Homo sapiens: one gene and its partner. The protein of the gene in region 1 purifies or fractionates together with the protein of each later gene. This does not show direct contact. Each region holds a gene or a part of one and is shown on either strand. Other genes may lie near its edges.

Region 1 (3,500 bases):
TAAAAAAGATATGCTCTATTTTTCTAGTGTCCAGCTTTACTTTGCCTTTATTACACAAAGTTGCTTATTTGTATGATGCCCTTTGAGGATGTTTTGGGGAATCCAAAACATTTTTAAAGAGTACTTATGACTCAAATGCAATTATGAATCTTCTTAGCAAACAATAGTAAACTACAAGATATACAAAGTAGGCCGGGCATGGTGGCTCACGCCTGTAATCCCAGCACTTTGGGAGGCCAAGGCTGGCAGATCATGAGGTCAAGAGATCAAGACCATCCTGGCCAACATAGTGAAACCCCGTCTCTACTAAAAATACAAAAATTAGCTGGGCGTGGTGGCGCGTGTCTGTAGTCCTAGCTACTCGGGAGGCTGAGGCAGAAGAATCGCTTGAACCCAGGAGGCAGAGGTTGCAGTAAGCCGAAATCGTACCACTGCACTCCAGCCTAGGCAACAGAGTGAGACTCCACCTCCAAAAAACAAACAAAAAAATCTAGAAGCATATCTAGCCCATAACAGTTGTTCAGTACACATTAACTCCCCCCCCTTCAATATGCTCTGCCATCTGTCAAGAAAACAATCTCAAGGTACTTTCTACAAAGCCTGGTAAAAAGTGTCCATCTCTCAACCACCTTGGGGAGGCATTAGCACTGCTGCTTTGTAGATGATGAAAGTGAAGCTAAAGAGAATTAATTACTTGCCCCAAAGTTGCATAGCTAGTAAGTCACAGAGCTCTTCTCAGCTCAGAACTGTTGAGCACCAAAGTTGTAGTATGTTTAGCACCAAAGGATACCATATTGCTTCTTTTCTTCTTACTGCTGCAGAATTTACCCAACTAAACGTGACCATTTAGTATCCTGAAACCTTAAGCTTTAGTTTCCTCATTTATAAAAAGGGAGTACTGCCTATATGTTGCAGGGTCATTATGAAATTTATTAAAAATATATGTCTGGCACCTTTTACCATCTTAACAATCTGAAATGGTATTTAGTATCAGCAACTGTTAAACTCTTATTAACATGTTAAAGAAATACCTGCTTTCAGGAATACTCAAAAACAAAGTCTTCTTCACATGTTCACTTTTCGTATTCTGAGGACCGGCATTTTCTGGTGATGTAGTTTGTTGTGGAATGCCCATCTCATTTCTACTCTGAGATACAGCTTTGTTGACAGACTTAGGTGTTCCAAGTCTTTGAGAAGGGCCTTCAGAAGAGACAGAAAGTCCTAGAAGATGAGAGAAATCACCTCAATACCAAATAGTTCTTTTGCTTTTCATTATAACTAGGAATACGGTGAAAATCCTATCAATTAGCCTCTTTCTCCTGTCAAATAATGTCTGTTAAAGACAAATGCCTGGGACTTTCTGTTAAAGATAGTATTTAAATGCATATTAGATGCTGCTTCCTTTTGACATCCCACTACTTTTACATGAACAGAGATAATTTTTTTGTTGTTGTTGAGACAGAGTCTTACACTGTCACCCAGGCTGGAGTGCAGTGGTGTGATCTCTCGGCTCACTGCAACCTCCGCCTCCCAGCTTCAAGTGATTCTCTTGCCTCAGCCTCCCCAGTAGCTGGGACTACAGATGCATGCCACCACGCCTGGCTAATTTTTGTATTTTTAGTAGAGATGAGGTTTCACCATGTTGGCCAGGCTGGTCTCGAACTCCTGACCTCAGGTGATCCACCTGCCTCAGATTCCCAAAGTGCTGGGATTAGAGGTGTGAGCCACTGCGCCAGGCCTGAACAGAGATAACCTTTTTTTTTGTTTTTGTTTTTTTAGAGATGGAGTTTCATTCTTGTTGCCCAGGCTGGAGTGTAATGGCATGATCTTGGCTCACTGCAACCTCCGCCTCCTGGGTTCAAGTGATTCTCCTGCCTCAGCCTCCCGAGTAGCTGGGATTACAGGCACCCGCCACCACGCCTGGCTAATTTTTTGTATTTTTAGTAGAGATGAGGTTTCACCATGTTGGCCAGGCTGGTCTCGAACTCCTGACCTCAGGTGATCCACCTGCCTCAGCCTCCCAAAGTACTGGGATTACAGGTGTGAGCCACCGTGCCTGGACACAGATAATCTTAAAAAGCAGAACTCTACAAGGACAAAGGAAACTAAAGAAGAGATAGCAACAATAACAATATTTTGGAAGCTATAATGTAGATTGTTGAGTGGGACTTAGCAGACTCAAGAAAACTAATTCTAAGCCACCAATCAAGAAAAATGAATTGGCCGGGCGCGGTGGCTCATGCCTGTGATCCCAGCACTTTGGGAGGCTGAGGCAGGTGGATCACGGGGCCAGAAGATCGAGACCATCCTGGCTAACATGGTAAAACCCCGTCTCTACTAAAAAAATACCAAAAAATCAGCCGGGTGTGGTGGCAGGCGCCTGTAGTCCCAGCTACTTGGGAGGCTGAGGTAGGAGAATGGCGTGAACCCAGGAGGCGGAGCTTGCAGTGTGCTGAGATCGTGCCACTGCACTCCAGCCTGGGCAATAGAGTGAGACTCTGCCTCAAAAAAAAAAAAGAAAGAAAAATGAGAATCAACCCAATTTCTACCACATAACCCCTCAAAAGAACTGGTGGCTCCAAGTATCTCTGCAAGTGGAGATGAAAATGGAGCTAAACACAGAAGGAATGGCTCAAAGTCAGTTTAAACAAGAAGAGCTCAGATTCCTTTCCTCATTCTGCACAGCAAAGCAACTGTCATCACCCACCCCCATCACCAAAAACAGAAGGGTCTCTGGTTTAGAGGATACCAGATACAGTTGAGAGACAGGGTACTACATGGAAAATAAGGGAAATAAGTGAATATTTACACAAAGTGTTGAGACACTTAGCTTTCTTCCCCTACATGGCTCCTGAAAGACTGGCAGCCAGAATGATACCTTCCAGGAAGCAGATGGAAAGCATCTTCTCTGGGGAATCTGAGTAGACTATGAGAAAAGTCTTAAATGCAGTGATGTGTAGGTTCCCAGCATAATGGCCCCGCTAACAGAAGGGCCCCGAAAGTAAAGGTCCTACCCATGTGCAGAGAGTTTCCAGTCAGCTTTTTAGTGCCCTATTCTTAACCATGTGCAGGCAGTGAGAGATCACCAGATTCCCGAGGAAAGCCTCTAAATACAAGAGACAGAAACCAAAAACAACTAGATGAAAGTACCCTGAAACAAATACTGTCTATAGTGGATGAAGAAAACATAAAAGCTATCATTAATATCCTTGGAAAGATAAAACAATACACTGATGAAACAAGTGCAGAATGTTATAAAATGAACATTTGGAGAGTAAGAAAGGGCTCTTGGGAATTAAAAACATGATAGCCAGCATGAAAGTTGAGGAAATCTCCAGGAAGTAGAAGAAAACAGTAAGTACAGGAAAGAAAGATTAAAAAGTCTACCAGAAGAAAAATGTGTTTTTGAAAAAGATCAAACCTTGTCAAGAGAGATGGTGGTAAACAACAAAACTCCAGTAAGACTCCAGTAAGTCCAAAAGACTCCAGTAAGAATTGAA
Region 2 (3,500 bases), on another chromosome or scaffold:
ATACTCTGCAGCCCAGGCTGGAGTGCAGTGGTGTGATTAATGGTTCACTGTAACGTTGAATTCCTGGGCTGAAGCAGTTCTCCCACCTGTCTCCCAAGTAGCTGGGACTACAGGTGCAAACCACCACACCTGGCTAATTTTTAAATTTTTTGTAGAGATGAGGTCTCCTTATATTGCCCAGGCTAGTCTCCTGGCCTCAAGCAGTCCTCTCGGCCTCCCAAAGTGCTGGAATTACAAGCATGAGCCATTGCACCTGGCCCAGAAATGTAAATTTCAACCCCAATCCTGCCAAAAAGTTCAGGAAAACACTAAAGCTTTCTTTATATCCTTCTGTGTCTGTGTGTTTGAGGGACCAGGATAGGCAAGAACATGCTGCTTAAAGACAATAGGGCAATGCCAATTTTTTTTTCTCCAATTAGAATTTTACAATATTTAACTTGAACTTCATTTTTCCCCATCATGTATTTTAATAAGCTTACATCTATGATTGCTGACTCCTAAGAAATAAAATGTTATCTAACATTCAAAATTATATGAAAATGATTTTTAAAATCTTCATGTCTTTAGTTTTCCAGTTGCCAATCCATTCTTTATTTACGTCATAAGCCCCAGTAAGTCCCTATTAAATAGCTCTTAGCAGGTGTGAACTATCCCCAGCATCATTTGTACTACCCAATCTAAGCAACTCTTTAGAAACGCAATGCCACACAGCTTGTTCAAGACATGCCACTGAAACAAGACTACCTTGGGACTTCTTTAATATAACGATCGTAGGCAATTGTGTTCTTCCCATAGTTGATCTGCTTCTGTCTCCTCATTAGGACACTTTCATCTGTCTCAAAGTCAGCCGGCACAGTAGACATAGACTCCTTTGAATCAGAACTGAAAAAACAACAGATTAACAGAATAAGCCCTGCAATTAAGATCACCATGTATGTAAGGTAAGCCAAGAAAATGTCAAAACACAATAATGGAAGATTCACTCCAGATTCCCAACCATATGAATCCTAAATAGTCCGGAGACTGCATGTATGGGAATTTAGTACACAACAGATACAGTATTTCAAATTAGTGAAAAAGGTATTAATAAATGCTACTGCGACAGTCAGCATTTCTGACAGTCACAATTTTTTTTTTTTAACAAATTACAGGTCTATCAAATTAGAAAAGAAACATTTACACAGCCTTTACCTTCCTGATGATGATTTTCTCTCTCTTCCAAAGTCATTGATGAGGAGTTTCCTTTTATATCTGAGGGCAAAATAAATATTGCTGTTTTTAAAAAAGATATAAAAATAAAGCAGCCAGGTCTGAGGAAGCTCCACCCTGATGCCCGCAGGCACACCATCCTATGCAATCCAGAAGCTCCGTGGGCCAAAAGAAATCTTTGTCAGGTTCAGTTTAAGTAGTGAGATCCACACAACAAAAATTTACATTCCCTAAAACTTGGCAGCCTTAAAAAAAGAAAAACAAAACATAAATTGAAATAAATTATTTTAAAAACACCAAACTTACTAATGGGACTCATATGCCTACTGGGCACTGCATACCTTCTCCAATCCTGGAGACCAAACGTGCCCCCTTTTCTCTTGTTCCTCATGAACTTCCTGAGGCATCTGCTTTCTATTGCAGTCATTACCAGAACGCAGTTTTGCAAAAAAAAAAGTATGACATCTCCAAAAGGAGTCTAGCGCAATCTGACGTTGAAACCACGAGCTACCTTGAGCTCCAAGTTCATGTGAGTATCTTTTTTTTTTTGAGATGGGGTCTCACTCTGTCACCCAGGCTAGAGTACAGTAGCACGATCATGGCTTACCACAGCCTCATATTCCTGGGCTGAAGCAATCATCTCACCTCAGCCTCCCAAGCAGCTAGGACTCCAGGCAAGTGCCGCCACAACCATCTCCAAAAAAATTTTTTTCTTTTTTTGGAGACATGGAGGTCTGTGTTGCCCAGGCTGCTCTTGAACTCCTGAGCTCAAGCAATCCTCCCGCCTCAGCCTCTCAAAAGTACTGAGATCAGGAGTGAGCCACCACCCCTGGCCTGTCATGCAGGTATCTAAATTATGTCATGTATTACTGTGCCTCCTCTCAAAATCTAAAATCCACCCAAGTTTGCTGAGGTGTTCAGTGCAGTTTGGACGCCAGAAGGTAATGAAGTAATTTATCTCCCGTGCATCTAGAGTAGCACTGGCTATATAACACCATCTTTGTACGATTCAGAGATTAGTCCTGCAAATCATTTGCTGCAGGGCCTCATTCTCTCCAGTACCACAGATGAGAAAGACTGGTTTTCAGGTATGATGAAAATCCATTTTCTTTTTTTTCTTTTTTTTTTTTTTTTTGAGACGGAGTTCCCTCTTGTTGCCCAGACTGGAGTGCAATGGCGAGATCTCGGCTCAGTGCAACCTCCGCCTCCCGGGTCCAAGCGATTCTCCTGCCTCAGCCTCCTGAGTAGCTGAGATTACAGGTTGCTGCCACCACGCCTGGCTAATTTTTAGTATTTTTAGTAGAGACGGGGTTTCTCCATGTTCGTCAGGCTGGTCTCGAACTCCTGATCTCAGGTGATCCGCCCGCCTTGGCCTCCCAAAGTACTGCGATTACAGGTGTGAGCCACCATGCCATGCAGAAAATCCATTTTCATACTCTTATATTGCTAGTTTGTAGTCTGTTAGTCTCCTTAAAGCATAGTAAGCTGACATTTCATACCGCTCTTACTGTCAGGAAGTAAGCCGGCCTGTCAGTAATGGCTCACTAAAGGGCCAGCAGTTTAAATTACACAGGTTGCACTAAAAGCTGCAGCTTTGGCCAGGCAAGGTGGATCACGCCTATAATCCCAACACTTTGGGAGGCCGAGGCGGGCAAATCACCTGAGGTCAGGAGTTCAAGACCAGCCTGGCCAATATGGTGAAACCTAGCCTCTACTAAAAATACAAAAATTAGCCGGACGTGGTGGCACACAGCTATAATCCCAGCTACTCGAGAGGCTGAGGCAGGAGAATCGCTTGAACCTAGGAAGCGGAAGTTGCAGTGAGCTGAGATTGCATCATTACACTCCAGCCTGGGAAACAGAGCAAGACTCCATCTCAAAAAAATAAGTAAGTAAATAAAAGCCGTAGCTTTCCATCACAAAGGGTATAATCAACAGAGCAGCCCAAACAGTGCTGTTTTCCAAAACAGGACAATTTTCAGGCACAGACCCATGAGATATCTGAAGAACAAATAGGGTCCACTCACAGGACAATCTGGACAGGTGGAATACGCATGAATAAGAGCTGCAGATAACCCCTGGCAAGGGGTGACTTGAGGGAGCAACTAGGCTATCGGTATGCAAGAACTGTTCTAAGACTTGTGCATGCAACACAAACTATACAAGTCAAGTCAAACATTCTAATTTTATAATTGAGGAAGTCAAGACCTATATAAATGCAATAATTCACTAAAAACACTGGTACTCTCATCTGTGAACTCCTAGTTCATTTCTTCTACCAAGGCATACAT

What was found. The genes of interacting proteins can lie anywhere in the genome.
Region 2: the proteins of DLGAP5 (region 1) and SLBP purify together in Homo sapiens (co-immunoprecipitation; one large-scale study listed by IntAct). This does not show direct contact.

The regions. Positions count from the first base shown.
Region 1 is NC_000014.9:55,153,586-55,157,085, forward strand, and holds part of DLGAP5 (disks large-associated protein 5), read right to left. Parts: intron 1,222-3,500; coding exon 1,032-1,221; intron 1-1,031. UniProt on the Homo sapiens protein: Potential cell cycle regulator that may play a role in carcinogenesis of cancer cells. Mitotic phosphoprotein regulated by the ubiquitin-proteasome pathway.
Region 2 is NC_000004.12:1,698,820-1,702,319, forward strand, and holds part of SLBP (histone RNA hairpin-binding protein), read right to left. Parts: intron 1,252-3,500; coding exon 1,192-1,251; intron 883-1,191; coding exon 745-882; intron 1-744. UniProt on the Homo sapiens protein: RNA-binding protein involved in the histone pre-mRNA processing.